Linked DNA regions of Homo sapiens: regions 1, 2, 3 and 5 are each linked to region 4. The links come from fine-mapping of genetic effects on gene expression. A gene starts in region 4. Each other region holds a variant in brackets. All regions are shown on one strand. Distances are from middle to middle.

Region 1 (6,369 bases), 64 kb before region 4:
TCCTCTCTGAGTAAATGATAAATGAACTAGACAGAAAGTCCTCAAAGTTATGGAAAGACCTGAACAACAAAATGAACCACCTCGAGCTGATTGGCTTTTGCTGAATGCGCCACAGCAAAGCAGCAGAATATACAAGATTTTCAAGTATATGTGGAAGTTTTACCAAAATAAATCATAAATCAACCCATAACTAATTTAAAATAATTGAATATGTACAAAGTATGTTTTTAAAATCTGTAATGGGATAAAATAAAAAATATAACGAATGAGATACCTGTATTTTTTAAAATAACATATTTTTAGTGATCCATGTTTCAAAAAATTCTTGAGGAAAGTTAGAAAATATTTCCAAATAAATTAAAACGTAAATGTCATGTTTAAAAATTTGTGGAATTCAGGTAAAGTAGTGCCTATATCATTAAATGCTTGTATTAGAATGTAAGAAAAGATTCAAACAAAAAATCTAAACTTTGATCTTATATAATGAGAAAAGAAAAGTAAATTAACCTAAGGCCAACAAAAATATATGGATGATACCCAGCACTTTGGGAGGCCAAGGTGGGTGGATCACGAGGTCAGGAGTTAGAGACCAGCCTGGCCAAGGTGGTGAAACCCCGTCTCTACTAAAAATACAAAAATTAGCTGGGCGTGGTGATGGGCACCTGTAATCCCAGCTACTCGGGAGGCTGAGGCAGGAGAATCAGTTGAACCTAGGAGGCGGAGGTTGCAGTGAGCCGAGATCACACCACTGCACTCCAGCCTGGGTGACAGAGCAAGACTCCATCTCAAAAAAAGAAATATATGTATATATATTTTTTATACATATATATATATGGATGATATAGATAGGGAAATAAAAAATTTCAGAAATTATAGAAAAATAATAAATGAGGTTGATGGAACTAAATTTACTTTTTAAAAAATTTTTTGAGATAGAATCTCACTTTGTCGCCCAGGCTGGAGTGCAGTGGCACGATCTCAGCTTGCTGCAACCTCTGCCTCCCGGGTTCAAGCGATTCTCCTGCCTTAGCCTCCCGAGTGGCTGGGATTACAGGTGCCCGCCACCGCACCCGGCAAATTTTTTAATTTTTAGTAGAGACAGGGTTTCACCATGTTGGCCAGGCCAGTCTCGAATTCCTTACCTCAGGTGATCTGCCCACCTTGGCCTCTAAAAGTTACTTCTTTAAATAGATAAGACTAGTTGAAATGTCTGACATCAATCTGAGAATTTTTTTCTAAAAGTTGTTCAGAAGCAATGACTTTGAACAAAGCTTCAAATAGAGGAAAGTATATGTAAACTATAATTTTCTTGTGATAACACTCTTCGTTCTTTAGAGAAGATTCTGAGAAGACAAGATTCTCCTTGAAATTGTCTTAATTTTTAAGTGCCTACTATGTGGCAGATTTTTTTTTTGAGACGCGGTGTCGCACTATTGCCCAGGCTGGAGTGCAGTGACGTGATCTAGGCTCACCACAACCTCCGCCTCCTGGGTTCAGGTGATTCTCCTGCCTCAGCTTCCTGAATAGCTGGGACTATAGGCGTGTGCCACCATGCCCGGCTAATTTTTTTGTATTTTTAGTAAAGACGGGGTTTCACCACATTGTCCAGGCTGGTCTTGAACTCCTGACCTCGTGATCCACCCACCTTGGCCTCCCAAAGTGCTGGGATTACAGGTGTGAGCCACCACGCCTGGCCGTGACAGTTGTTTTCAAATGCATTAGCCCATCCAATTTGAAGAGCATCCTGTAAAGGTCAGCAGAAAGAGTTCACCTTCTTCACTCCATAGCATTTACTGCACTTCCTTTTGCAGTGCCATCTGTCATCTCAGGAGGCCGAAGATTTCCTCCTTCCATCTGATGCAGGGGCAGAATTTTGCTCAGAGTCTTTGATACCTTCCACATAACCATTCTTGCCTGAACACCTGTACAGGCACCACTAGTCACACTGAAAGCCAGTATGTTCCTGGGGAGAGATGCCAGACAGGAGGCAGTGGAAGGCTGATTAATTATTCTTTTCAAATTCTAGCTGGCATGTCAATCATGGAACCATTTTTCACCTCCTGGGAGAAGCCCAGGGTTTGTAGGAATTCAGACTCAGTTGATCGCTGTTCCTCTTAGAATTCTTATGAGGGGATGGAAGTTTTGAGCACCTAAGAAAGCCTGTCCCTGTGTTTGCCCGTTCAGTCCCCAGGTTCAGATAAGAAGGTCATTAAAATAAAACTGCAAATATGCTAGTGACTGGACAAACTCTCTGTCTACCTTCAGGCCTGTACCCTAAGAACCAGGAAATTATGTTTCAAATCATACTCTACTTGCAGCCCACTGGGAAAACAAACAGTATGCAGAGGATTTCCCAGAGGGAATACCAAGCGTCTAAAGTTGCAGTCCAGGGTGGCTGTGGCTGTGAGACAAGACCAAGGGTGTGTGGTGGCAGAGTCAAGGGACTTTTGCAGGGGATAGGATTACTCCATGTCCCAGGGAGGGGAGGTGATTCTGCACAGCCTCCAGGGGAGGCAGCAGTGAAGACCGGACAGCAGGCCAGTTCCCCTAGTCAGAAGGGAGGGCACATGAGGGTGACTGAGAAAGGGTGCTGTGACACGAGAAACTGTCGGGGCCAGAAACAAATCCTGGGAGTGTACTTGTCCCATGTGCCCAGGAAGGACAGGAATGCAAGATGTGGATGAGCACTTGAAGCCTCTCCCACAACCTGATGAGCACCCATAGTAGGTGCTCAACAGAAAGCATTCAGCCATGAGCTCCCAGGGGACTTAGCACATGCCACCCCCTAATGGTGTTTGATTCTCATTGTCACCTTTGTAGACCTGCTTTTAGTACCTTGGTCTCAGGGTTCTTTCTGTCACCTGAGAGACATGGCGCAGTGCTGAGAAGATGCAGTCAGGAGATGGGGCTCAGGCTGGGGGGAGGGGGAACAGCATAGGCTCTGGAGGAATTCAGACCAGGGGTCTTTCCAGCCCTGTCCCTTAGTAGCCACGGGATTCTGGGAAATACCCAAGCCCTGTGAACCTCAAGCTCTAC[G/A]TCTGTGAAGCAGGTGTGACAAGTCCTTTCCACTAGGACTGTTGGAGTGTGTGCCATGCAAGTGAAGCACCTAGCTCAGGGCCTGGCGTAAATTACAAGTTTAAAGAACGGCGAATGGCTGTTTTTTCCTATATTATTTTACCCCAGGCCTTAACACTCTGGGATTTTGTTGTTGTTGTCATTGTTCTCCAGGACTTATCAGATAATATACAGCTTGGTAAGACATGGAATAATCAGTCAAAGAATGAAGTTTCATCTATAAAATTCAGTAAATATTTCCTCTTAGAGGACATACTTCAAACTTTGGTTGTTGGGGAGTTTTCCCAAGCCAGATGCAGCTCACAGCTCCTAGAATTTGAGTCAAGGACCAACTCCTTCCTTCTCTGCCCGCTGCTTTTCCATCCAAACCACTATTTTTTTTTCATTTCATTGCCACCCAAAATCTAGCCGTTGCTAAAATTAGCCAAATGGCACTTGAGATGACCTAATTAGAATGTCATTTTAATAGAGTCAGCTTTGGCTCCCAGCCAGGCAGAAGAGTACCTGTCCAGTGGCTTCTGGGCCTCACTTCCAGGGATATTCACCCTTATCTCTCAGAAAACACTTGCAGGTGATGCGTATCCATCACCTAGCTCTTGTGCTGTGTTCCACCTCACTGGAACAGGAGCACAGAATGCTTTCCATTCCTGCCCCAGATGGAAACTCCTCTCTGCTTTATCCACTATTCAAAAGGAACTGCTGAGCAGTTTTCTATTCCAGGCTTTTCTCTCATGCCTGAGAATCTGGCTCTGGCACCACACAGCTTCATTACAATTAGCTCCCCGAGAAGGAACTACAGTTTCCCAAAGTCCAAAAGGTTTTGGCTCAGGGCATGTACACTCAACTATTAATACTCTCACCTGTTGCTCCACACCCTCACCGCTCTCTTATTTTCCCTCCAGATCTTAGAAGACATCTAGCCACTTTAATTATGTGACTGCAGATCCTAGACTCTACCGCCCTAAGGTTAGGGGTGGATGTGGCTTACCTTAGCATCTCTACTATTAACCTAAGCCTTCCAAATAGCAGATGCTCAATGAATCTTTTGAGAAAAAATGAGCCAGTGAGCAGGGGGACCTAATTATTCATATGTAATTCTCTTGCATGATCAAATAAGCCAAGCAAATCTGGTAAGACTTCAGGATAGTGGGTTCCCTCCTGGCCCAGGACAGGTCTAAAAATGCCGTCCAAAAGCCAAGTTCTGAAATCAAGAACCCCAAAAGACAGCTTGGTTGTCTTCTCCACTGTGGGTTCTAAGGGCCCTCACTGAAACCAGTTATGTGAAACCACCTGGTAGTTTTCCTGAACCAAATCTTGTGGAAAATAAACTTATTAGGCTGTCCGCCAGGCACAAGAATTACCCTGTGAAAGGCATACTGGAAAACCTACCATCAGCTCCCCTCCATCTCCAGTTAGGTCAGCCTCACCAGATATTCTGGTACTAGAACTTCAGTTTGGCTGGGGGCTCTGAAAACAGCCCCTTAGGCAGGCTTCCCATGAGCTAAACCAACTGAAACTGAGCAGACCAAAGAATGAGCCAGATGAGGAATCTACCCATTCTAACCAACCAGCCTGTTTGTCTTACTCATCCACGTACAAAAGAAAGTGTTAGCAGCTGCACAGAGTCCTTCCTGTTGAGCTAGAAGGTTGCAGTTCCATGATCTAGTATCCCATCACGGGCTAAACTGAGGCAGGGAGTGAGGCCAAGTGGATCTTGAAGTCTGACTATAAAAGGGATCCCTAGCAAAGTTTAAACAAACAATTGCATCAAGGATGTTTCTAAATTTAGCCACTGGGTGGATTAAAGAATGTCTTGGGTCATGTAAAGATATGGGCTTGGCATGGGATATCCAATGTTCTATGGAAGCTGATCATTGTAAAATTCTAACTACATGTCACCCTGGACCCACACAGGTCTGAACTGCATGGGTCCACTTATGCATGGATTTTCTTCTGCCTCTGCCATCCCTGAGACAGCAAGAACAAGCCCTCCTTTTCTTCCTCCTCCTCAGCCTATTCAATGTGAAGTTGATGAGAATGAAGATTTTTATCATTATCCACTTCTACTTAGTGAACAGTAAATATGTTTTCTCCTCTGTATGACTTTCTTAATAACCCTTTCTTACCTCTAGCTTTCTTTATTGTACAAATATAGTACATAATACACTTAAAACACAAAATATGTGTTCATCCATAATATTTCCAGTCAACAGCAGGCTAATAGTAGTTATGTTTCTGGGGGTTCAATGTTTATACACAGATTTTTGACTGCATTGGGAGTCGGTCCCCTTAACCCCCACCTCGTTCAAAGGTCTAGCATACAGGTGTTATCTTGCCAAGTGAAAGAGGGAAGCATAAGCAAGAAAAAATTAAGAGGGATAAGGATGTCATTGTGAAAGGGAGTCTTGTTTCAACATCTTCAGAGAAGCTGTCTACAGGATGAAGTCATCGAGTTCTCATTCTGGCTTATAGCTTGAAAGTCTGCTTATGGCTTCAGGCATTGTGGTGAACTCTCTGAGTGGCTCACACATCAGGCGGGAGGGTTGTTTGTTGACGTTTACATGAGATGTTGAGCTGCAGCTTACAGAGGACCTGAGCAGTTCCCGTTAGTATGAGACTTGCAGCCAGATAATGGAGAAAATTAGAACAATTTAGAATCATGTATGGCCTGCAATTAGACTCGAAAACAACGAACAGAGCTACAAGCTAATAACAAGTATACCATAGTTTTTTTAATTTTCCTGAAACTTAATTTTTCTCTCTTCTGTCTGCATTTCTATCAAAGATAACTAGAGTAAGACTATTTTGATAAAAAAATAAGTTTAGTCTCATCAAACTTAGAATGATTACTTATGTAAGTGCAGCAAGGATCCATTAGCCACATAGGCTCTTTTAAAGTTTGCTTTGTTGGAACTTTTAGGGAGGATTCTCAGATTTCAGTTTTCAAAGCCTCTTTATGCTAGGAAGCCAAACCAAGGTGGACTTCAGACTTTGTCTGCTGCACCTATAGATTTGGGTGAATTTCTCTCTTCTCGGGGTCCCCCAAATATTTTGAGGTTCCTGGGCTTTCCAGGAAGTGACTTTTTTTCTCACTATAAATCTGGGAACACTTAAAGCCATACATTCTATGGACGTTCTCAAACATGGTATCGCAGTGACAACCTGGGTAGTATAACTAGTATTCCCAGTTGCATCCTGTTATAAAGAGAGCAGACTGTGATTGAACTTATGCAAACAACTTTGCCATAAAATCCAGAACACCCACAAATTGTCTCTGGGAGGCAAGTTTTACAA
Region 2 (6,369 bases), 21 kb after region 4:
ACACACACACTAGGAATGTTGGGTGACCATTAGGCGATGGTCAAGTGGTTGTTAACTATTTCTGTAAAGTAATAATTGTTCACAGCCCTTGCCAGGGGAAGGCAGTCTCCTAATAGAAAACACCTGAAATGGATCAGCAGCTTCCCAACAAGATCTCAGGACTGGGGAGAAAGTAACACAAGATCTCTGAAGTAGGCTGATATGGTTTGGCTGTGTCCCCACCCAAATCTCATCTTGAATTCCCACGCATTGTGGGAGGGACCCAGTGGGAGGTAACTGAATCATAGAGGCAGGTCCTTCCCATGCTGTTCTCATGATAGTAAGTCTCATGAGATCTGATGGTTATTATAAAGGGGAGTTTTCCTGCAAAAGCTTTTTTTTTTTTTTTTTTGCTTGCTGCCATCCATGTAAGATGTGACTTTCTCCTCCTTGCCTTCTGCCATGATTGTGAGGCTTCCCCAGCCACACGGAACTGTAAGTCCAGTTAAACGTCTTTCTATTGTAAATTGCCCGGTCTTGGGTATGTCTTTATCAGCAATGTGAAAACTAATACATATGCCAACATAAAACCCCAAGTCAAGAGGTCAAGCTGTGACTTTGGTTTCTCAAGTTGACTACTTGGCCCTCTTCCGAGTTATACTTTTCTTGTTTCCTTTCCTTCCTTTCCTTACTGTTCTAAAGCTTTGTGTTTTGTTTGTTTGTTTGTTTGTTTTTTGCCTCAGTCTTTCCTTCTGCCTTTGGCCCCTCAGTCGAATTCTTTCTTCTGAGGAGGTAAGAACTGAAATTGCCGCAGACCTATATGGATACACCACCAGTAACTCAGGGTAACTTGGGTACCTGCCACCACTAACAAGAGGGCTCCTCAGGGTGCAGCTTGTCAGCAGAAGCCACGGCTCCAGCAATAACAGTAGGACAGGTGGGTTGGCACTTTGGAGTCCCCTCTGCTCTGGGGCCGGTGGAGCCCTTTGTATACATTTAAAGTAAACACCTCACCTTGCCTGCTGGCAATACCTGGGCCTCCTCTGCTGTATGACTTCAGGACACTGCCTCAGACCAAGGCCCAAACCTCTCTGAGACCTGGGAGAAAGAAGTGAGGGGGCACCACACGGAAAATTCTGCACGGGATTCCCAAGGCTGACAGAAGGAGCAGGTTTCAGGGGTGCCTCCTCTGTCTGCGTTCCTCCAGGTATTCAGATTTATTCCCGACAGGGCCCAGCCCTTTCGCTCCTGCTCAACTGTGGATGAGTCTTGTGTGCCAAGGCCACCATCTTCCTGGGACCCCCAAGGAGAAAGTGGGGGACCATGTCCCTTCTCCACAGGCCTGCCTTGGGCCTCCCAGGACTGATAGCAGAGGCAGATTTCCTAGGTCCAGGATAACAGGTCTGCTGAGTCCTCTCTCAGGGCTCTAGGGGACTTCTCTCTTTGCTGGCCTGAGGCCCTACTCCTCATATTACACCCCTCTCGTCACTGGCACCCCAAAGACACAGCAAAGATGTGCCACACACAGCCAGCACTCCCAGGACCTCCCAGGGTCGAGGTCCTCTGAGTCCTCCCTCTTCTTCCTCCTCTTGATCCTGTCAGGGCTGAGCCTCACCCCTTTGTGGACCTGAATCTATATCCCTCAAATTCCCAAGGCCAATTGAGAAGGTGCCTCAGTCTCAGAAAGAAGTGGAGTAGGCCCCCTGTTCTGGGTTGCTGGGTCCCCTCAGGCCTGCCTTGTCTCCCAGCCTGGCCTGGACCCACCTTCTGCTCCCCTGAGGCCGTGCTCATGATTCCAAGCCCCTTCCCTCCATCAGCCCCCGATGTGAACATCAGGATCCACATGCCTGTCCACCATGCCCGGAACTTCCCAGGGCTGACAGCAGAGATGGAGCCTCGCTCTGTGGGATCTCAGCCCTCCTTCAGGGTCTGGACCATGATGCCTGGCAGGCAGAGCATGGGTCCTGCCCTTTCCTAATCAGCCTTTCCCTGGTCACACCAAGCTCTGTCTCCAGAATGCCCTGCGGCTTAAGTGGCAGTGGAGCCGGGAGCGGCCCAGCCTGAGAAGTCTGCCCCCAGGTGGCCCAGGGCTGGCAGCAGGGGTGGCACTGGGTTAATTGGGGTCCTCTCTCTGGGGTAGGGGCATCCTCAGTCTTCCTCAGTGTCTCACCTTGCCTCCTCACAGAGCCGGGGCCTGTTTCACTCCACCAATCTCAAGCTGCCACTCAGAGCGAGGCGCTCTTGCTATCCTCTGACCCCTGAGGCCACGTCAGTGGCGTGACATCCGGCCCCCAAGCCTGGGGCTTCCCTGGGTCGACAGCAGCAGCGGAACTGGATTCTTCCAGGCATGGGGGTAGGAATGGTTATAGGGGCCCTCAAGCTTCCCTTAGGGTCCTGACATTGATTCCTTGCAGAGCCTGGACACCCTGCCCTCTGCCAATTGGGTCTGCTCCCTTCACACCAAGTCTCTGACTCCCAGTCCCCTGAGGTGGCAGTGGTGGGAGGCGTGTGTTCAGGGCGACAACATTGCCAGGATCTTCCAGGATTGTTAGAAGGGGCTGAGCTGGATTCTCTGGTTCCTCTACAAGGGGAGGGTGGACTCTCAGTCCTCACTCAAGAGGATCCTCCTCCTGGCTCTTGGATCTTTGATGAAGCCATGGGCAGGAGATACTCTGTTTCTGCCACTTCTGAGCATTTGCCCAGCTGCATCTCTTGCAGAGAATGGCTGCGGGTCCCAGGCCAGGTACTCCCTGCAGAGCGGCAGCTTCTGTGATTGTAGTGACCTCTGGGAGAAGACACACACCTTCCCAAGGAAGCTCTTCCCCAGCCACAGGTCGAGTTTGCAAACCTGTTTTCCTAAAATATTTGTTTTTACATTAAATAGGCTGAGCAGCAGCATGAAATTTGGGGATTCCTGCCATTAGAATTATCGAGTATTTCATAGCTCAGTGCAGTGATTTTCATTTTTAAACTTTCATTCAGCATCAGAAATCATACTTAACCTCATTATGCCTGTTTCATTCTAATGCTCAACACTCTATTTGTAATCCATTCTTTATGTTCAGTTAAGCCAATTCACCTATTAATGTGGTTTTAGGTGGTTATTAGCACAGACTGGAGCTACTACTGTTTCAATGAAACCAGACTACTGGCACCTGTGGTCTCAGGTGCCACCTGACATTTTCACACTGGAATAGGGGCAAAAATTTAAACATTTCCTTCTACACATCCTGTCATCTTCCTTCTATGCCAGCTATGGACTCTCCCTAACTTCCTTGACACTCTGGCCATTTCGATTACAGGTACCAGTTAAACACAGTCTTCATTCTCCCCCAGGGCTTTGCTTTGTTGTTTAGATTTTGTTGTTGATACTATTTGTTTTTTTATTTTATTTTATTCTTTCTTCTATAGTTTTCCAGGATTGATTTTGGTAGTTGAGGGCAGAAGTCCAAGCCTGACATTCATCTTGGCAGCTAAATTTTAAGCATTATATCTGTAAATCTTGAATAAGAAAAATTGATATCTTTTCAATAGTCTGTTCCCTATTAAGGGATATAGAATACGGCTCTGTTTATCTGGGAACTTTTTGACCTAACTCTATCAGTACTTGCATAGTTGTTTCCATAAAGATCTTGTATGCTTTGTCTGTCTCCATTGGATAATTTCTAGATTTTGTTGCCATTGTGAATGGGGTATTTTCTATTACTTGTTCTGAATAGTTATTTATTTGGGTTGCAAGGATTTTGATTTTACTGTAGTAATCTTCTGTATACTATTTTTCTGAAGTCTGTTATTTGACTATTCCATCTGCACAATTCTTTGAATTTTCTAGATAATCATATTGTCGTACCAAATATTAAATCTGTTCAATATTTATACTG[A/AT]TTTTTTTTTATATCCACCTCTCTGGCCTTATGTTACAGTGTAATTTCCAAAGATAGAGGTTATAGCATAGTCCTATGACAATAATTCTTCTGACATTTCATATTTGGGTATGCTGGCCAGTGATCGTAGGAAAAGCTAATTTCCTTCTAACCTCATTTGGCTAAAACTTTTGACCATGACCTCTTGTAGAATTTCCTCCAGAATCTTTTCTGTACCTATTATACCTATTAAAGTGATCACTTTTTAAAATCTTAATTCGATAACGTAGGAAATCACAACTGAAAATTGTTTTATATTAAATCATGTTTTTGTTCCTTGGACACAATCCGTTAATTCACTTCTATGTTGAATATGCTACTAATTTAATTAATATATTTGCCTCTGTGTGAGTGAAGTTTGGCTCAAGTGTTTTCACGGTGCTGTCCTCCTCTGGTACCTGAATGAAGAATGGTTAGCTTGGGAAAATAATTTGAATAATTGCCCAACTTTTCGTATGCCTTGGAAGAGTTTACTTAAGGTGGCTTTGAGCTTTACCTGATAACAATGTAGAATTGGCCTCCGAAGCTGCCTTGTCCACATTTGAGGATGGCTTGAGCTTAGATTAGTTTCACTTTTTATTGTTTGGTTAAAGATTTGAATTTCTTTTTGTATCAATTTGTTCATGTACTTATTTTCCTAAAATATTATCCATTTCACTTAGGATTTCAAATTAAATATCATATTTATTTCAAAAATATTTTCATTACAAGCATTTTCAAATACACCTAATAATAGGGTAAATACTATAATTAATCTAATATACCAGACTTTCAGTATCAATAATCTTCAACTCATGGCCAATCTGGTTCTAGTTATACCCCTACCTACTCCGCATAGCAGAAACTGAAATAATGTGGAGCAAATCCAAGACACCATGTGATCTCATCTCCAAATACATCAGAGTGCATTTCTAAAGATAACTACTCTCTTATAAAACATAAAGCCAACATTATTATCTTTCCTAAACATGTAAGCAAGTCATTAATATAATGAAATGTTCACTTATTTGTCACATGTATCTGGTGGACATATGCTCCTGTTAAAATGCAGTTTCTTTGAATCGGTTTGCAAATATGATCTATACATTGTGTTTATGTTCTTAATAGCCACCTTAAGTAATTTATAGATTCCCCCACATTACCTTTTTTTGAAACTCATTTGTTGAAAATGAAGACATGCCTTGTGTTCTGTCCAGTTTCCCATACTCTGGATTTTGCTGAGCGCAATACTTCTCTTCCTGCATTACCTATCTGTTTTTCCATGTTGCCTACTTTTTCCATTAAAGCCTCTTAAATTTTTAAAAATAGTCATTTTAAATTATCTGCCTCCTAATTCCAATATCTGAGTCATATTAGAGTCCAGTTCTGTTGATTGTCTTGTCTCTTCAGACTATGTATTTTCTTACTCTTTTGCGTGTGTCCCTTGCAATCCTTTTGTTGAGAGTGAACGTGTTGTATGAGGTCATAGGAACAGAGGCAATTAGATCTCTACAGTGAGGATGTATGTCAATTTGGCTGGGAGTTGGGCTTTATTTCTTATACCTATAGATGCCAGAGGCTTCAGATTCCTCTAGTGTCCTTGTTTTTGTCTTCCGTTTTATTAATTGTGGCAAATGTGTAATGCTAATATAAGAGGATGGTAATAGGGAAAACTGGGTGTGGGGTATATGAGAATTCTCTGTACTATCTCTGCAATAATTCTGTAAGCCTAAACATTTTCTAAAATAAAAAGTCATTAATAAAGAATGACTTGTTGGACCCCATTGGAAGGAACAAGAATAACCACCCCTCACATTGAGAATTGGCTCTGCAAGAGAGAGAATAAAACATTTATCCTGCATTTCCTGTACTAACTGTATTTCAGGATGACACAATAGCTACAGTTGATGAGGAAAGTTTCTTCCTTACTGGAGAATTCCAGCTGAGGAAAATGCAACATATGAGAGAAAAGGAAAACAAGTATTTGCAATATCCAGCAATGCAACTGATGCAATCCATGCTAATCAATGGATGAAACATTGTTGAAGGGTTGATGACGCACTCTGCAATGGAGGAACAAGGCTGTCTCCACCTCTCCACCTGAGCCCACTGATCAGAGCCAATATGATCAAGGGTTGAACAGCCAGAAGTTGTATGCCTCCTGCTGGAGTACAGTAGGAAGCACAAAGAGCCTCCTATGTGTACCTTCCCCCCCAACAAAAAGCCAAACCTGCTTCTGGCCTCCACCTGAGGTGAACTTTGAAAGATAGGAAATCCAGTCCTGGATTAAGACATCTGGCCCCTCATTGAAGACACAGAGTCTACTCTGGAATGAGCACTAGGTGTCACCAGACAGCCTTCTGCTTTGTTCTGCACCCAGTCTTTACACGTGCACCATTGTCCTGCCCGCCGCAGCAGTGCCACAGCAGCAGGCCAACAGCCTTGCCTGTTCAATGCCAATGGTGCCTTCCATCCCCTTTATCCCGAGAGA
Region 3 (6,369 bases), 220 kb before region 4:
GGACTTCCTGGCTCAAGGATCTCCTCACTGGTTTATCCAAAGGTAATTCCCATTTAAATGGTTAGTGAACACCAAGACAACTGCTTAGTAGCTGTTCCCCTACTGGTATAGATTACCTAAAGTCTCTCCCAGAATAGAGTTCCAGCACATTTCCACCTTTCCAATGAGCTGCCAGGTTTGACTGGAGCCAGTAACTGTTTATTCATGCGTGACCAGGCTGCTGATAGAGAAGTAGTGCAATGCAGAAAGGCATTCAGCACTGGACCACCCATGAATGAGTGTGCTTATGTGTTGTAATTCCCTTGGTGCAGGTGGGCATCTGATACTCATTCATTCAGCACCAAGGGCTAGGCCAGGGCTCAGGACCAACTCAGCAGCAGCAATCTGTCATCTGTCACACACCTTCTTGTGTTGCCTTTCTCAGGTTGGCTGCAGCCTCTGAGCCATGACCCCGTAACCATTTCAAAGATAGCCATGGACACTAGAACTCTGTTTCAGAAGCTTTAAGACGTCTCTAGGAGAGGGGTGGCAACCAAGTTATTTTATGCATGCTAACACCAGGTAGCACAGTATAAACAGGCACAAATTAGAAATATTTTGAAGAAAGAGAAGGGATTGAGTTAACCTATGAACAGTGATGTGGACAGTTGCTTTCATGAAAAAAGAAACATACAGCAAATGAGGCCCCAGCTAACTACCTATTGTATGTGTCTACATTACAAAGAGAGAGACAGAAAGGATTGAATTTGAGAGTGTGAAAATAAATAGGGAAGAAATGTGTTGGGCCACAGCCTCCCAGAGAGTGGCTCCCTAGGTCCCATTCACAGCACTGATTTAACTTCCTTCAGGATTTTTTTCAATGCCTATTTTCCTTTCCACTGCTCTGTTTAAAAAGAAATGTAATAACATTTCTTTTTAATAACAGAAAGGAGGTTATTTTTGATAAGTTTGGGGCTTTTAAACCACTAGTTCATTTAACAAACACTTCCTGAGTTATACTGTGTGCTAATCCATATGCCAGAGGTTGAGACTATCTTGCTGAATAGAATAATCATGGCTCCTGCTCTCATAGGGTTTACCTTCTATTGGATGAGAGTGAGAAAAACAAAAATAAACACATAAGTATAATAAAAATGTTATCAAATAATAATAATGCCTATGAAGACAAAGTGGTAAAATGGCCAGCAACTGTGATGAGGTAGTCAGAGAAGGCTTCTCTCAAAAGATAACCTGTGATCTGAGAATTGAATGATGAGAAGAAGAAATCTGTGTAAATACCTGGGGGAAAAGCATTGCAGGTAGAGGGAACAGCAGATAAAAATGCCCTGAGGCATAAATGACCTTAAAGTGTCCAAGGAGATGCAAAAAGAAGAAGGAGAAGAAAGAGAAGAGGATGAAATTGGAGAGGCAGGTGAAAATGGGCCATCTAGGACCTAGTAGTCTATGGTAACATATTAGGATTTTATTGTAAGTAAAATTATAATTTACTGGAGGAGTTTATACATTCGCCCCACCTTCTTTAAATAATAGCACCTCAGTTTTTTATTGTAAATATCTTCTTTCCTCCATTGAAAACAGTCCAGTGGGACTAACAGTCTCAATGCTCTGCTAGATCCTAGCCAAAGCAGAAGCCTAAATCAATATGTATTTTGTCTAGACATGTTTTTCTTTTGATTTTATGACAGCTTTATTGAGATATAACTCACATATCATCCAATTTATTTATTTAAAATGGACAACTTCATGGTTTGTAATATGTTCACAGATATGTGCAATCCTCACTCCAGTTAAGAACATTTTAATTACCTCAAAAAAAAACCCTGAACTCTTTAGTTATCATCCTTCTACTCTCTTTCCTCTCCCTCTCCCATTCTAATCAACAACTAATCTACTTTCTGCCTCTGTAGTCTTGATTTGATGGACATCAAATATAAATGGAATCATATGCGATCTTTTTTGACTGGCTTCTTGCACTTACCATAATGCTTTCAAGGATCATCAACACTGTAGCTTGTATCAGTACATTGTTGCTTTTATGGCTGAATAATATTCCATTGTATGTATACCACATTTTGTTTATCCATTCTTCAGTTGATGAACATTTGGAATGTTTCTATCTTTTAACTGTTACAAATAATGCTTTGTGGACATTTGTGTAGAAGTCTTTGTGTGGCCATGTTTTAAATTATCTTGAGTGAAAACCAGATTTGCTATCATATGGCCACTTTGTGTTGAACATTTTGAGGAACTACCAAACTGGTTTTCACAGTGGCTGTGTCAATTTAAATTCTCAACAAAAATGCATGAGGACTCCAATTGCTCTATATCCTCACCAACACTTGTGCAGATGGACTGAATGTTTATGTCTCCCCAGAATTTTTATGTTGAAGCCTAATCATCAATGTGATAGTATTAAAAGTTGGGGCCTTTGGCAGGTGTTTAGCTGATAAGGGCTCTGCCTTTATGAATGAGATTAGTGCCTTTACAATAATAACTCTGGGGAACTAGCTAGCCCCCTTCCACTATGTGAGGATACAGTGGGAAGTCATGAACTATGAACCAGAGAGTGAGCCCTCAACAGACACAAAATCTGACAGAGCCTTATTCTTGGACTTCCTAGCCTCCAAAACTGTGAGCAATAAATTTTTCTTGTTTATAAGTTACCCAATCAAAAGTATTTTGTCATAGCAGACCAAACAGACTAACACAACTTATTTTCCTCTATTTTCAAAAATTACAACCATCCCAGGAGTTGCAAAGTTGTACCTAATTGTGGTTTTGATTTGTGTTTCCCTGATGGCTAATTATGTTGAGCATTCTTTCATGTACTTACTGGCCCCTGTGTATTCTTTTTGGAGACATGTCTATTGAAATCCTTTGCCCATTTTTAATTGCCTTGCCTTTTAATTGTTTTTCAATTGTTTACCTGTTAAATTCATCAAGTATTGTTTCCAATCATAACAGTATGAAACTACAAATCAATAACAAGAAATTTTGGAAAATTGACAAATATATATAAAGTAAACAGTATGCTCCTGAACAACCAATGAATCAAAGAAGAAATTAAAAAGGAAATTTAGAAATATATTGAGACAAATGATAATGAAAACAACATATCAATCCTATGATGTGCAGCAAAAGCAGTTCTAGGAGGAAAGTTCATATCAATAAATGCCTACATTATAAAAAGAAAGATTACAAATACAGAGCCTAACATTATGCCTCAAGGAGCTAGAAAGGGAAGGAAAAAACTAAACTCAAATTTAGCAGAAGGAAAGCAATAAAGATAAGAGTAAATATGAAAACAAATATATTGTGGGTGCTATATTATTATCAGATATACAATTTGCAAAAATTTTCTTCAAAGACTTTAATTATGATATGCCAAAGATTTTACTCATGATGAATTCCAATTTACTTTTTTTAGTTGCTTGTGCTTTTGGTGTCATATACAGGAAACTATTACATAGTTCAAGGTCACAAAGTTGTATACCTTTGTTTTCTTCTAAGAGTTATATAATGTTAGTGCTTATATTTAGGTTTTAATATATTTTGAGTTAATTTTTTTATATGGTGTGAGGGAGGAATTCAAATCCTTCTTTGCATGTGGATGTCCAGTTGTCTCAGCACCATTCACTGAAAAAAACTAGTTGATAGATCATAGATATAATTTTTACCATAGACTTCTCAATTCAGTTCCATTGATCTATATGTCTATCTTTAAGACAGTACCATATCTGTTGATTACTGGAGATTTATAGTAAGTCTTAAAATAAAGAAGGGTGTATCCTTCAACTTCCTTCTCTTCCAAAA[T/A]GGTTTAAATTATTCTTGGTTCCTTGCATTTCCATGTGAATTTTAGGATCAGCTTATCCATGTCTAGGAGTATCTTTTTCATTCTTTTACTTTCAATGAATTAATGTTTTTGAACCTAAAGTGTCTCTTATAGACAGCTTATAGCTGGATAAAGTTTTGAACTAAATTCTGCAAATCTCTGCCTTTTAATTGCAATGTTTAATCTGTTTACATTTAATGTAATTATTGATAAGGCAAAATTTATGTCTGCTATTTTGCTATTTATTTTCTATATGTAATTTATTTTTGTTTCTCAATTCCTCCATTACTGCTTTGTATTGTGTTAAATATATATTTCATAGTGTACAATTTTTATTTGCTGTCATTTCTTTTACTGTGTATTTTTTAGTTATTTTCTTAGTGTTTTTCCTGAGGATTACCCTTAACATATCAATTTATAAAATTCTAGTGCAGATTAATTCCAACTTAATTTCAATAGTGTACAAAGACCTTACTCCTTTGTGGAACTTTTCCTTCTTATACTAATATAGTCAAAAATTATATCTTTATATTTGTGTGACTCTCAACTAGATTTATAATTATCACATCATGCAGTAGTCTTAAGTCAAATAGAATAGAAATGGTATTATACTGAAAAATGCACTTATACTGGTTTAGATCACCTACATAGTTATCTTTAACAGTTTTTTAAATTTCTTTATATGGATCTAGGTTGCAATCTAGTTTTCTTTTATTTCTGTCTGAAGGTCTGCCAGTTACAAATTCTCTCAACTTTTTGTTTACCTGGGAGTATCTTACTTTCTTGTCTTTTAATGACAGTTTTTCTGTGTACAGAATTCTTGGTTGACAGTAGTTTTTATTTTTTCTCAGCATTTTGAAAATGTTATCACAGTTTTCTGCCTCCATGGTCTCTAATAAGAAATCAGCTGTTGATCTCATTAAAGCTCACTTGTAAGTGATGAGTCACTTCTCTCCTGCTGTTTTCAAGGTTCTTTCTTTGTCTTTGGATAATTTTATTATGCTGTGTACTGGTGAAGATCTATTTGTGTTTCTCATATTTGGAGTTCATTGAGCTTCTTGGATGGGCAGATTAATTTCATCAAATTTGGGATGTTTTTTCATTGTATCTTCAAATACTATATTAACATCTTTCTTTCACTCCTCTTCTGGGACTTCCATTATGCATATTTTGGCACACTTGCTATTATTGCACAAGTCACTGAAGCCTTGTTCATTTTTCTTCATCTTTTTTCTTTCTGTTCCTCAGACTAGAAAATCTCAATTGAACTAATTTCAGGTTACTTATTCTTCTGCCCACTCATATGTGCTGTTGAGCCTTCCTTATGAATTTTTCATTTCAATTATTTCAATTCAATTATTTCACACCCCAGAATTTTTATTTGGCTCTTTTTAACTTATATTTCTTTACTGATGGTCTCTATTTGTTGTGACATTGTTCTTATACTGCTCTTTAGTGATTTAGACATGGCGAAGTTTAGCTTTATGAATATATGTAAATAGGAGATCTAAAGCTTTTGCCTAGTAAGTCCAATTTTAGGGCTTCTTCAAGGATTATTTCCATTGATTGCTTTTATACTTGTATATGGGTCATACATTCTTATTTCTTTTATGTCACATAACTTTTTGTTGAAAACACAAGAGTTCAAGTAATAATATAGTTTAGATATTTGCTCTGCTCAAATCTCATGTTGAAATTTAATCCCCAGTGTTAGAGATTGAGTCTTGTGGGAGTTGTTTGGATCAAAGGGGCGAATCCTTAATTAATGGTTTGGGCTATCCCCTTGGTGATAAGTGAGCTCTCTCTCTGAGTTCACACAAAATCTAGTCACTTAAGAGCTTGTGGCACCTCCTCCTCAACTCTCTGTCTTTCACTCTTGCTTTCACCATGTATGATGCCTGCTCCCCCTTCATTGTCTACCAGGATTGTAAGCTTCTTGAGGCCCTCCTAGAAGCTGAGCTGATGCCAGCACCATGCTTTGTGTAAAGCTTGATGGGCTGTGACTCAATTAAGCCTCCTTCCTTTGTAAATTATCCAGTCTCAGTTATTTCTTTATAGCAATGTAAGAACAGCCTAACACATACAAAAAGTTGGTAATGAGGAGTAGGGCATTGCTACAAAGATACCTGAAAATGTGGACACTACTTTGGAACTGGATAAAAAAACAGAGGTTTGAAGAGTTTGGAGGGCTCAGAAGCAGACAGGAAGATGATGGAAAGTTTGAGACTTATTAAAGACTGATTAAATAGTTATGACTAAAATGCTGATAGAGATACAGACAGTGAAGGACAGGCTTATGATGTCTTAGGAGGAAATGAGAAATTTATTGGGAACTGGAGCAAAGGTCAAGCATGTTATGCTTTAGTAAAGAGCTTGGCTGGATTTTTCCCATGGCCTGTGGACTATGAAAGTTTAAACTTGAAAGCAATGACCTACAGGATCTAGTGGAAGAAATTTCTAAGTGGCAAAGTGTTCAAGATGTGGCCTGGGTGCTTCTAACAACCTATGCTCAAATGTGGGAGCAAAGAAAAGACTTA
Region 4 (6,369 bases):
TGACACAGTCACGGCCTTGACCCCATGGAGCTTAAAGTTTAGTGGGGGAGGCAGGTATTAATCAAATAAGCATCCAGACAGACACAAGGGTACAAATATGCACTATGATGGAGGAGTAGTAAATACTACAGGAACTGTAGAAACAGGGAGCAGTAAATCTGGTCAGGGAAGTCAGGAATGCTTCCCTTAGCAAGTGCCAAGTGAGGATAAATAGGAGTTCACTAGGTCTGGAGGAGAGGAAAAGAGAGGGAAACATTCCTGGTAAAGAGAACAGTGTGTGACAAGGTCCTGGGGTAGGAGGGAGATGTTGAATTGGTTCAAAAATAGAGGCAGGGAGCAAAGCAGTAGCATCAAGGTTTGAGTCCCCAGCATAAGGTAACTTCCTGTGTACACCCCTCAGTTTTCTTTCTCCTATAGAGAAGGCCTTCCTCAGCATGGAAGGAGACTAAAGCACACTGTCAAAAACTAGGAGTGCTCAGGAGAGGTGAAACACTACCAGCTAAAAAAACAAATCTGATTTACCAATAATACCTGGCCAATGTCCTCTTGAAATATCTGTAAAATTAAGGAACTCACTACCTCTGGCAACAATGAATCAGGAAAATGGCACAGTATAAAAGACCTTTAAACTTTTCAGGTAGAAATACATTTTAATGCAGGTAGAATTAAGAGATTGATGAATATGTTGAGAATTACTATAAATCTGCTTAGATACCAGGTATTTCACTGTAATTTCATATACTAATTTTTTTGGGGGGAAAAGGGCTAAAGGAAAAAACGGTTAAAGGTAGTATCAGTGCAGCACTATTTTGCTTTGGCAACTCCGTTAGCCTGTTTGATCACTTAAGGCAGTTTCTTGAGGCTTCTGAATTCTCTGTCACCTTGCAAACAAGTCACTGTAGCTTTCTATTTGTAAGGCACTTTGTAATCAATCCTTAATTGGCCTCCCTACCCCACTGAGAGATTATACTCATTCTACAGATAAAACAATAGATAAGTGAGTTGCCCAAGGGCACAAAACAATTCAGTTTTTACTTAACTTTCTTATCACCATCTCCAAATAGAAGACATACAGGGCTTGTCCAGCCACAGCACCAACCCTACTACCCTGCAGACCAATCTTAACCCCCTGATGCAGCAGAGGAAGGGACTGCAGTTAGTTCTGTTACCTCCTCTATGCCTTCGAAGCCAACAATGATAATGTCTGCACCGTGTTAGAGACACTGGCACTCCTAACCAGAACATGAACTCAAAGTGGAATAAGAGCACATACAAAGTCACAATGACTCACAAGTTAAAATGTCACCATCCCTAGGGAGACTGCACCCTCAACATACAAATACTCCCCTAAAACTTCCTTTCATCCTCAACAAGCAGCCAAGGCATAGGTCCCCAGAGTTGGCCCCCGCAGTACAGCACTGCACAGTACTGTAAGGCATCTTAAGTGTACAAGCCCTTCTTCACCCCATGCTGAGACCGCCAGCATCTAAAGCACCTAACATAGGTTACAGCACACAAATATTTACTGAGCACGTCTTCCCAACTGGCAAATAAGGGAAACGGATACTCCTTTCGGAGAGTAGTGCATTTAAGAGATCAGTTAGGCCAACTCCTCATTTTACAGAAGGGCCAAAGAAGGGCAGAGAATCACCCAGTTACATATGGCCTCGTCTCCAATCCAAGTCTTTGGGCTCAGTTTAGTTCCACAAACATTTTATATGTGCCTACTATGTGCCAGATACGGTGGGTGGGAGGCGCTGGGGACACTGAGATGAGCAGGAGATGGTCTCAGCTTCAGGGAGCTCACAGCCTGGGGTAAAGAACAGTTACAAAACAGTCGGGCAAGTGCAAGGACAGGCGCTTGAGTGCTTAGCCAGTGTTTTCTCCACACTGTCCACTGGGTGTTCCCCATCTGGAAAAGAAGGACAGCAATATCTACTTCCTGCAAATAAACTTGTAGTGAAGACTGATGAGAAAATGAGTATGGAAAATGATCAGGCTCACCCAGAAATGCATTATATAAGGTATTGCCATACCCCGACACTGACTCCAAGGATTCAACAGTGTTTCAGGTATCCGTTCAACAAAGAAGCAAACAAGAGAGGGATGGGCATAAACCCAAGGAAAACCCCAAGGACTGCGAGGAACTGGAGGAAACAGCTGGGGTGGGGGTAGGGGTGTTGGGTCGAGTGAGACGGCCCTGACGCGGAGAATGGAGGGCCCGCAGCGGCGCAGAAGAGGATGGAACCGAGACGAAGAAGTTGGGACACCAATGAGGGACAGCAAGCAGAAAAGAATGGGGTTCCCTTGGGGCAGGACGGGGCTCGCGGCCGGGCCCTTCCGGCCGTGGCCGGGCAGGGGCTGAAAGCACCGGGCACGGGAGGAGGAAGCGGGCGGGCGCCGAGGCCGACTGTTTTGCCTGGGGACCGCTTGCACCCGCAGGGAGGCTCGGGCAGGCGCCCGGGTCCTCGGGCTGCAGCATCTCGCCCGCCGTGCCTCCCCGGAGCCGAACACCAGCCCGCGCCCGAGCCCGCAGCGCGGACTCCCGGGGGCGCCAACGACGCCGCCTCACCTCGGGTTGAAGTCCTGGAAGAGGCCCCTCAGGTTCATGGCGGAGAACTTCACCGCGGCGTCCTCCTCCTCCTCCCCCGCACCCCGTGCTGCACAGCCTGCGCCTTACAGCGGGTTCATGGCGCCAGCGCCAGCCGCGTCCACGCTGCTGCTCCCGCTACTGCTGCCGTCCCCGCTGCCGTCGCCGTCGCCGTCGCCGCCGCCGCCGCCGCCGCCGCCGCCGCCGCCGCCGCCGCCGCCCGGAGAAACCTGAGCCACCGCCCCCTGCCCCTCCTTCCGGGCTTCCGTACGAGGGCCGCGCATGCGTCCGGAGCCCCGCCCAGAGCGCTCCTCGCTGGGAGGTCCCCATCCTTGTGTCCGCACGCGACCGGCGGAGGAGATGGCAGGGGGATGGAGGCTGGGAGTGAGCAGGGCCCCGAGGAAGGGGATGCTGACGGGCTGAAGGCCTGCAGGGAGGGAGCGCGCCGCCCGGGAGTCTGGCGGGCAGATCTTGGCAGACACCTGTCACCTTGGCCCGCGCTACCTTCTGGAGATTTTCCCCAGTGACGACTGAGCCCTGGGAGTAGTGACAATGAGTGAGACGTTGCATTTTTGGCGATGTCATCCCAGGCTTCACCTGTCACATCTGTCAACGACTCCAAAGTTTGGGTCCCAACTTCCCTTCCAATTCCCAAGCCAGCGTGTCCAGATATGCTGGCTATTCCCTACTCAAGTTACCTAGCACCAAAGTCACTTCCCGTGCCAACCGCCTTCCCCTCCTGGGTTCCCTTTTTCCCTTAGCAGCAGGCCTATTCGTACGCAGGGGGGTATTCAAGCAGGAGACGTGGAAATCATCCTCATTTTTCTAACCCAGTTCAGAGCCTCCTTGGATCCTGTCTAAACTTTGTGGTCACTTCACACCTGACCTCTGCCTCCACTCCAGGCTGCCCTACTTACAAGTACCAGGTTCATCTTCCTTGGGCAAGTCAACATCTTTGAGTCTCAGTTTTTCTCCTCCGCAGAATGGAAATGATAAAAACCTCTTTTCTAAGCGTGTTAGGAAGATTCAGTGAGATCGTGTGCATAACACACTGCCTGGTACATGCTAGGTGTACAAAGAATGCTGTTGCTATCTGGTACTCTTTCAGGTGTCAACCTCCTCAAGGATTTTGTTTGCTTTTGGAATCCAAGAGCAGGACAAGCTCATAGCAGGTGACCTAGTTTACCATCTTCACTTTGGGCAGATTTAAGTTTTCATGAGCACAACAATGCCTTAAACATTAGTCTACTATCATTATGGATAATAGTCATCCTTTGTTGCAATAGCAGAGTTTCACAAATGACAATTTTATACTGTTTAGCCCCAAGGGCAGCTTGAGAGAATCACAATTGCGATAGTCATACTTAGTCTTGATGTATCACCTTTCTTCTGAGAACGTAAAAACATATCATAAGTGGTAATTAAGCTTCCCAACACCCACTGGGAAATGGATATTATTATATGAGCTGATTTTAAGGTTGAGTAATCCAAATCAAGTTTTCATCTGCTGAAGCACCAGGACCCTGTCCCAGACTTTTTCACCCATCTTCCTTTCCCATCCTCTGGGTAAAGTCCAATGTGTAGCCCAGAGGAGGTTCTCAATGAACACTCAAATACAGACGAGGAATTAAGGCGCAGAGAAGCTTGTATAACAGGCCCTGAGCGAGCCAGCAAGTAAGGGTGAAGGAGCACAGATGAAACTCAGGGTCTAGCTGAACCTGCAGCCCATACTGTTAGAAAGAGGTGCTTGCCAGTGGTCAGATTGGACAGCACCATCTTCATTACCAGTGACCGTGCCCCAAGCAGGCATGAGAAGATGGTCTGCCAGTTCAGACACTTGAATAACAGGCATCACTGCCCTTTCAAGAGCTTCATAGATAGAGACCAGGCAGGCTCCTCAGAGTCCAGAATCTTGAGGGCAGACGCTACTTTAATGAGATCCCAGGGAGTCTGGGAGCTGAACCACTGCTCTGCAGGCCCACAAGTTCAATTTTAGCAGTTCTTCCAGAGTTGACCAGGCCCTGGAAGCTATCTAGCAAAGGCAACAGGACACTGATGCACAAATTACTTGTCAGTGTGTTCTTTTGCTCTGACAAGGTAAATTGCCAAGAGGAACATATGAACCTGTCTGTGAGGAAATACAGGAAGAACTGGACTTTCCCAAGGCTTCACATCCCCAGTCTTCAAGAGGTGGATTACCTGGACTGATTCTGGAAGCCCAACCCTTTATGCTACTGGTGCTCTCATGGGGAAAAAAAAGCCAGAAACCAGATGGCCATCTGGTCCTCTCTCCAGCAAGTGCAAAAGACCCTACTGACAACCTGCTGCTCACTTCAGAGCCCTCACTCAGTGTCCCACCCTAGATGGAGGTCCAAAGCCTCAATGACCTGTGTAGACAGACCCACAAGTGATCCTGACATTAAAGAAAGACCCTGGGTCATATGCAGGCACCAGGAGTGCTGGGAAGCTTAATTACCACTTATTAAATGTTTCTACATTCTCAGAAGAAAGGTGATACATCAAGGCTAAGTATGACTAGTGGAGAAGATGACACCCACATCTTCTCCACTAGCAGAGTTTGACTTTATCTTTTCCTTGACTTGCCAAAAAATTCCAGGGCTATCTTGCTAGGGGCTCCCAACATTCTTCACTCAAAGGAAAGAAATGGCTCTGGATTGAAAAAGTATGACCCCCAAATAAGCCAGACAGCATATTCTTGGTGACTTTGGGGTGGGCTTAGGTTACAGTGTTCCAGAAGAATCAGTGTATATCTGACCATGGTTTTAAGGACTAACTTGGATTTGTACCACCCTTCTGATAAGCTGGTGGCTTGTCCAATTCAATATTCACATTGGCTTCAATGTGGTGATATAGGATGCCTCTCCTCTGAAGAGCAAGGCACTGGTGAAGAGAATCCTGGTGAATTTAGACACTTGGACTGGGGAGACCTGGCATAGGGGAAGAAAATGGCCGTGGAACCGCCCTCCACACACCACCAAGGCTCCTTCCCTGGCTGCAGCAGTAGAATGGAGAGAGTGTGGAATTAGTAGATTTGAACTCAACACCAGTTTCACCCTTGCTCCAGTGGAGGGAGGGCCAGCTGGGATCCAGTCCCGTGCAAGGCCTATGGGACTATAAAGAGCTTCTCGGAGGTCAGATTGACAAGTTCTTTAGCCAGGAAACATGGAGGTGCCAGCCTGCAAGGCTTTCTTAGCCTGGAATTCCTCACCCTAGGTTCCCTAAAGTCCACACTTTGAATGCCACCAATTAGAGAATTGCTGAAGATGCTGGGAATTAGTCCACCTGCAGAATGCAATCTCCTGCTTCCTGACAGAACCCTTTGTTTCAGGCAACTTTAGCCTAACTTGGATACACATCTGAGATCTCCCTGGGAGGTGGGTGGGTCTGGAGTCTAGACAGGGATTTGATTAAATACGGGGCTAGATTTAGGGGCTTGGAGAACTGGAGGAGGAGATTGCAGGGAGGCAACTGAAGGGACCACAGAGGTAGTAGCTGTAGTTCTGCTTGGACTTGCAGCAACCCCTATGGCCTTCCAGAGCCCAGAAGGAGCCACCTCCTCAGGGAGTCTTCCCTCAGGTAGGCAAATTACAGTTACTGAGAGAGAAGAGGGAGGGAGGACAGTCCCAAGGCCCCAGTGGACCTCCTGTCACCCAGGGTAGCCCTGGGAGTGGGTGGTTTATCATCCCTCATGGAGCAAGCTTTCTGCTAAAGGAAGCAGGGGCCATTTCCTGTTGGAAGGCAGAATGGGGAGCCTTTGC
Region 5 (6,369 bases), 28 kb before region 4:
CTGGGGGTACTTTGGCAACACAAATGGGAATGGGCTCCCCAGAAAGTCTGGCTGCCTGGGCTCCTAAGGATCCCTAACCTCACCCCTACCAAGTTAGTGAACTTGGCGGGTTGATGCTGGATACAGGTTGATGCTGGATACGTAGCGCTGCCGGGTCCCCGCCTCCACGGCAAGGGCGCATTCCCAGTATGTCCCTGTCGTACCAGGTAGACCTTGTCTCATCCACACACAAGCCCAGAGGACGAGTTCCGGGGGCGCCACTTGGCCAGGCTCCCCTGTGACACGTCTTCGCCCTCCTGCCCTGCCTCCTGGGACGACACTCCTCCGTTCTCCCTTTTTATTAATTATCTATCATACAGTAGGAAAAGTGACCGTCTTCCTTTGGTGTGAGTTCCCTGAGTCTTCACACAAGTAGATTCACACAGCCGTTGGCAGGATGCAGAAGAGGTCTGTCACCCTGCAAAACTCTCCGTGCTGTCCCTTCACTATCACACCGTCCCCACCATTAGCCCCGGCAAACACTGATCTGTTCTCTCACTGTACTTTTGTCTCTGCTGGAACTTTATGTAGATGGCATCGCGAGACAAGTAACCTGTTGAGACTGGCTTCCCGCCATCCACATAATGTCTCTAATGAGATTCATCCAAGTTGTTCCCTCCCTGTATCCACAGGTCGTTCCCTCTCAGATCTGAGTGGTATTCCATTGTATGGATGCCTACAGTTTATCTGACTGTCCGCTGAGGGTGGTTTGTGAAAACCAAACAAGGCCGCTATCCAAAATGCAAACAAGACTGCTACAAACACTGGTGTGTGGGTTTCTACAAGGCTGCGCGCTTTCACTTCTCTGGGGGTAAATCTTATACCCAGGAGTGGGGCAGCCAAGTCCCACGGGAAGTGCGCTTTTAACTGCATCAGAGATGGCCAAACCATTTTCTACAGTGCCCGTACCACCTGCCTTCCCGCCAGTAACACTGGAGTGTCCCAGTTCCTCTGCATCCTCCCAGGCACGTGGCCTCGTCAGTGTTGCTGAGTTTCACCATTCTGAAGCCATGTGTTTCGGGCCCTCATCCTGGTTGTAGTTTGTCTTCCCTAACCTGTAATGGCGTTGAGCATCTTTTCCTGTGCTTTTTCGCCATGTGTATATCCCCTTCGCAAATTGTCAACTCTTTTGCCAATTTTTAGGTGTTTCTTTTTGCAGTTTTGAGTTTTTAAGAGTTCTCTGTATGTTCTGGGTGCAAGTCAGTGTTTTGATGTGTGCTTTGCAAATATTTTCTCCCAGTCTGTGGCCTGTCTTCATTTCATTTTAATTTTGAGGAAGTCCAAATTTATGATTTCTCTCTCGTATGGACCATATTAACAGTGCCATTTCTAAGTACTCTCTGCCTAATTGCAAACCCCAAAGATTCTGTCCTATGTTATTTCCTAACAGATCTATAGTTTTACATTTTCTTTTAGATCTATGATTTGAGTTGGCATACGAATTTTACTTCTCCTGACCAGTTCTTGATTGTAGGTTTCTCTGCAGAGTCTATGCACAGCCTTTCTTCCCCGTTCCCCATTCTGTGATGAGATTCTCCTTTTTACTGAAGTTCCCTTCATGGGTGGAATGTTAGATCTCAATAGGCTTCCTTGTTTTCTCTTGCTCACTATGGGAAACATGTACTCAGACTGCTTCATCAACTGGGATCTACAGAGGATGAAGGGCAGAAAAAATCTTTCTTCTCATTTGTGGAAAGCTCTCAAAATTACTAATCTTTTTTTTCCCTGACAGTATCTTATACGAAAAAATTTGGTCTTGTTTAGATATGTTTCCTTCACGTCACAACAGAAACAGTTTTGAACCCAATGACCATTCTCCAGATACAGCACTGTGAAGTTGTAGGATGAGTGACTGAATATTTTTTATTATGAATGTTTTATCAAAGACTTTGGGCAGAAGTGATTATTCCCATCTTTAAATATGGAGTATACTTAGGTTCCCTTCATTTCTTCTCTGCTCCCAATTCTTTACTATACTTTTCACTTTTTAAGGGTAGCTATATTTAATACATAAAATATATTGTATGCAAAATTATACATCAAACAACAGAGAAAATAAAACCGAACAAAAACACTAGCATGACCTTACCTCCCAGTGGCAATGGAACTCTTCTGCCTTTAGTCTCCATCTTTTTTCCATGCATTTAATAGTGGAATCTATACTGTGTTCTCTAATTTCTACCTTGCCACTTATCTTTCTATCTCTGCATCCATCTACCCATTTATTCACAGTTAATTTCAACCAAATGCCCAGTAACTGAAGTCACAGTTTAGAAGCATGACATAGATGCCACCACCAGCAAGAGTGTAAATGGGTATGGCTTTTTTTTTTTTTCTTTTGAGACAGGGTCTTGCTACATTGCACAGGTTGGTCTCGAACTCCTGAGCTCAAGTGATCAGCTCACCTCGGCCTCCCAAAGTGCTGGGACTGTAAGTGTAAGCCACTGCGCCTGGCCAGGTATGGCTTTTGGAAAAGCAAGTTGGCAGTGCAGTATACGTATATAGGAATCTCAAATAGTTCCCAACCTCTAGCTCAGTAACACTATTTCTGGACTATTTCCTAAGAAAACAACCAAAAAACAAAAGGCAAAAATTTTAATGCATAAACATATATACTGCAGTATGATTTAAAATCATTCAACACTGGCAACAATGGAAATACCATATTTTAGAAATAAGAGGATGGTCTGATACATGCACTTGAAGAATATTTTGTATCAATTAAACTTTAGAAGTCATGTTTATAAAGACCTTTTATTAACATGATAAAATGTTTATGATACAACATTAAAACAAAAAAATCAGGATACAAAATGGTGCACACAGTTATATCCAAACTGTTTGTATAAAACACAGACATAAAAACACTAACCATGTTATCTCCCCATGGTGGGATTATGGGTGACTATTAGGCTATTACTTCTGCTTGTCCGTCTTTTCCAAGCTTTGTACAGTGAATATGAATTACTTTTATAATAAAAAA[G/T]AACTTTATTTAAGGATTTTAAAAGTTACATACAAGCCAGGGCCAGTGGATGATCTTGTCCAGTCTTAAGGCAATGAATATAAACTGGAGAATGTTGACAGAACACAGGATTTCTAACTAAAAATGAAGAGAAGAATCAGTTAAACAAAGTATAATTTGCATTTAATACTGCAGTAATTTGGTTAACACACTAAAAGACAATACACATTATAATACAGTGTAACTTGTATAATATTATATTGCACTGGAAACTCCTGATTTTCGGTACCAGAGGGGCACAGCAGTATTATGGCAAGGGGAAATGGGGCTCAGCCTGCTGCCTTGCCCCTCTGCTGCCTTGCCCTTTCTGGCCTGAGGCCTGAGCACAGATGAGAACCTTGTTTCCAGGTTCACTGGGAACACAGGCTAGCTGCAATAGACCACTAAACTTCCTTCATGTCCCTACCAACAATACTGTCTACTCGAAACCATCCTTGTGCATCCTTCTTCTCATACCTCGGTTTTGCCCTTGGACCCCACCCCTTCCTTTCAGGCTCCTTGAGGACCTTGTCACATCAAGCCATCAACTGTAGATTCCGTACTGTATCTTTAACCCCACCTATTCCATTGATCCCTCCTAGCAGCACAGAAATGACTCCTTCTCATTAAAAACAAAAGCCCCGAAACCAGATAAACCCACCCCATCCTTTGATCCAAGACCCCTCTTAGCCTCAGGTTTCTCTCTGCGAGACAGTAATGAATATGCAAGCCCCTACTATCTCATCTACCATTCCCAGCTTCCTTGTGATCTGGCCTCCACCCCCATGACCACCAGAAGACAGCTTTCATCAAAGTCACCGATAACCGGGAGGCAGCAAAAACACTTCAACTGGCATCCTACTGATACTGTGGATGACTCTTTCCTTTTTGCTCCCCTCCTCCTGGCCATCTAGATCCCACCATACAGTCTTGGAGCCCTCTGGAGTGTTCTGGTAATTCCTTCTGTCTCCTTTTCCCCCTCCTTAAATGGTGATGCTCCGCAGAGCCACAAACTCAGTCTTCTCTCCCGACTAGGAAGACAGACACACAAACACACATATTTTCACTCACCCGCTGCACCCTGGACTGGGGGAGAAGAAATTTCAACCAGACCCTTGGTCTGCATTATTACCTCCTTCATGGTTAGTTCTCACATCTGTCTCCAACTTAGCCTTCCTGCTGCATAGCAGACCCAGCTGTGCATAGGCCACTCGGCTCTCCTAAAGGCACCTCAAATGAAGCCAGTCCCAAATAGAGATCATTATCGCCTGCACTTAGAACCTTGTATCTCCTCTTTCTATAGCCTCCCATGTCACTTTCTATGGCCTCCCATGTCACTATGGCCTCCCATGTCACTTTCTATGGCCTCCCATGTCACTTTCTATGGCCTCCCATGTCACTTTCTATAGCCTCCCATGTCACTTTCTATAGCCTCCCATGTCACTTTCTATGGCCTCCCATGTCACTATGGCCTCCCATGTCACTTTCTATGGCCTCCCTTGTCACTTTCTATGGCCTCCCATGTCACTTTCTATGGCCTCCCATGTCACTTTCTATGGCCTCCCATGTCACTTTCTATAGCCTCCCATGTCACTTTCTATAGCCTCCCATGTCACTTGGAGGCACAACAGTGGTCTCATTTCTCAAGCCATGAGCCCGGGAATCACCCTGCATTCTTTTTCCCACACTGTCACGTTCAGTCACCACATCCTGTCCACTGTAAAGTCCAGATTTCTCCTGAATCCCGTGCCCACTTCCTATCCTGATGATGACTGCCTAGTGAGGCCTTCTTCGGCACCATCCGCCTACCACTTCAGCAACCCCTTACTAACCTCCCGCCTCCAGCCCAAACGCCCTGCAGGCTGCTCCTCACTCTGGTAAAGTACATTCTTGCCCACAAAATTGAAATCTGGGACCAGGCCCAGAGCTTCCCAAAAGTTCTCAGTACATAGGTACATGGGGAATTTAGTAATTCCTCCATAGACCTCTAGGCCAAAAGAAATCCCTAATGTGGCTGGGAATGCCAACAGTTGCACTGATTTAAGTAATTACATCTAACTTAGTAAGTATTTCTAAGTAGCCACTAGAAAAAATAATTCATATAAATCTAAAGAAAAATGTTAATATTATTCTTAAATAACCAAAACTAATTCCCAGTGGGATGCGTGTGCCTGTCAGGTAGCTCACCATTTCCCACGCCTTGGAATCAGACAAGGTGCTCCCACTCGTTACCTGTTCTTCACCCGGATTTTCACACAGCATTAGCCTTTTTTGTTTTCACAGCAACTGCTGAAAACCCAGCTTCTTAAAGATACGACGTCACTGAAAGGAATGCAGTGTGGCCTAAAAATAAACCTGTAAACTATTTCAAGCTAGTAGTTTGTATGGTGTCCCAACAAATGTCAGGTATTACTGTTTTCCTCAAAATGTCCACTATCCCCTGGTGCCCTGTGAGTGCACTGGGGTGCCTGGGGCACTTCAGCACATGCTCTGTGGGCTGAGGACGTGGCCCCTATTTGCCCCAATCCCTCTGTAGAGGCTCCCTCTCTTCTCAACTCCCACAGTTCCTTCCTTTCCACCTTGTGCTCCCGTCGGATCTGAATCGCCACAGTCCACTCAGCTGATGGAGTGTTTCCTGCCTCTAGGCTTCAATGTGTCCCAAAAATGCCATCCCTTCCCTCCCAACACAGGGCTTCCTGGCAGACCCTCAACTCCTCCTTCCCATCTCTGTATGAGCCTACTCCAGACCACCCCCTCACCAACATAGGTACTGTTCTTGCATCACAGGAGGAGGGAGCTCAGCTCCTGGTATGTTGTTTCTTCCAAGGGCAGGAATGCCTAGAGTGTGAATATATGAAAGACTTACTTTCTGTAATTCAGGCCCAATGCAGTCCTAGTCCTTGTATAGTTGTCCCTCAGTATCTGTGGGGGATTGGTTCCAGGACCCCCTGTGGATACCAAAATCCATGGATGCTCAAGTCCCTGATATAAACTGGGAATTGTAGGGAGGGTGAAAGTGGACCATCAGATACTCTCCCTCCACGGCTCACTCCTACCTACCACTATACCCATGCTGTGGCCTTTCCACCAGCATGAAAATCAGGGAATAGCTCCCCTTGTTCAAGGCCAAACCCTTCCTGGTGCTCTAGGTCCCATTCTCCCTGAGTCCCACAGGGCCTTGCTCCATCACCGTCCCTCTGTCTACATACCTTCCCCTCACGCCCATACCTGGGGTCTAGGCTTATATGCCTGACCCACCCTACAGCTGCTATGTTTACTTCCTAAGCCAACTGCAGTCTTCTCCCTTCACTCTTCATCCACACGGCTCA

Which allele goes with the higher level. Alleles are on the strand shown, and positions count from the first base shown. SD is a standard deviation of normalised expression in the study named. Not every link is listed here.
As copies of A replace AT in region 2, the expression in monocytes of the gene that starts at base 2,822 in region 4 goes up (moderate effect, 0.43 SD a copy in Fairfax 2014).

The links. PIP is the estimated chance that this variant, and not a neighbour inherited with it, causes the effect. A credible set is the group of variants that fine-mapping cannot tell apart.
Region 1: its variant is the best candidate, but not a certain one, in a credible set for the expression of TMEM185A in whole blood (TOPMed, PIP 0.85).
Region 2: its variant is the best candidate, but not a certain one, in a credible set for the expression of TMEM185A in monocytes (Fairfax 2014, PIP 0.89).
Region 3: its variant is the best candidate, but not a certain one, in a credible set for the expression of TMEM185A in whole blood (GTEx, PIP 0.67).
Region 5: its variant is the best candidate, but not a certain one, in a credible set for the expression of TMEM185A in whole blood (TOPMed, PIP 0.80).

The regions. Positions count from the first base shown.
Region 1 is chrX:149,565,313-149,571,681 of GRCh38, forward strand. No RefSeq gene overlaps it. Among named protein-coding and RNA genes, the nearest start is that of HSFX3, 19 kb to the left of the region's middle. The variant G/A (reference allele first, on the strand shown) is at 3,037.
Region 2 is chrX:149,650,441-149,656,809 of GRCh38, forward strand. No RefSeq gene overlaps it. Among named protein-coding and RNA genes, the nearest start is that of TMEM185A, 22 kb to the left of the region's middle. The variant A/AT (reference allele first, on the strand shown) is at 3,861.
Region 3 is chrX:149,405,733-149,412,101 of GRCh38, forward strand. No RefSeq gene overlaps it. Among named protein-coding and RNA genes, the nearest start is that of IDS, 96 kb to the right of the region's middle. The variant T/A (reference allele first, on the strand shown) is at 3,814.
Region 4 is chrX:149,628,971-149,635,339 of GRCh38, forward strand. It overlaps TMEM185A (transmembrane protein 185A), which reads right to left and starts at 2,822. Exons shown (of 7, transcript NM_032508.4): 1 at 2,573-2,822. The coding sequence starts at 2,610. RefSeq lists silencers at 2,315-2,364, 2,375-2,784.
Region 5 is chrX:149,600,932-149,607,300 of GRCh38, forward strand. It overlaps TMEM185A (transmembrane protein 185A), which reads right to left. Exons shown (of 7, transcript NM_032508.4): 4 at 3,056-3,139. Among named protein-coding and RNA genes, the nearest start is that of HSFX2, 8.8 kb to the left of the region's middle. The variant G/T (reference allele first, on the strand shown) is at 3,023.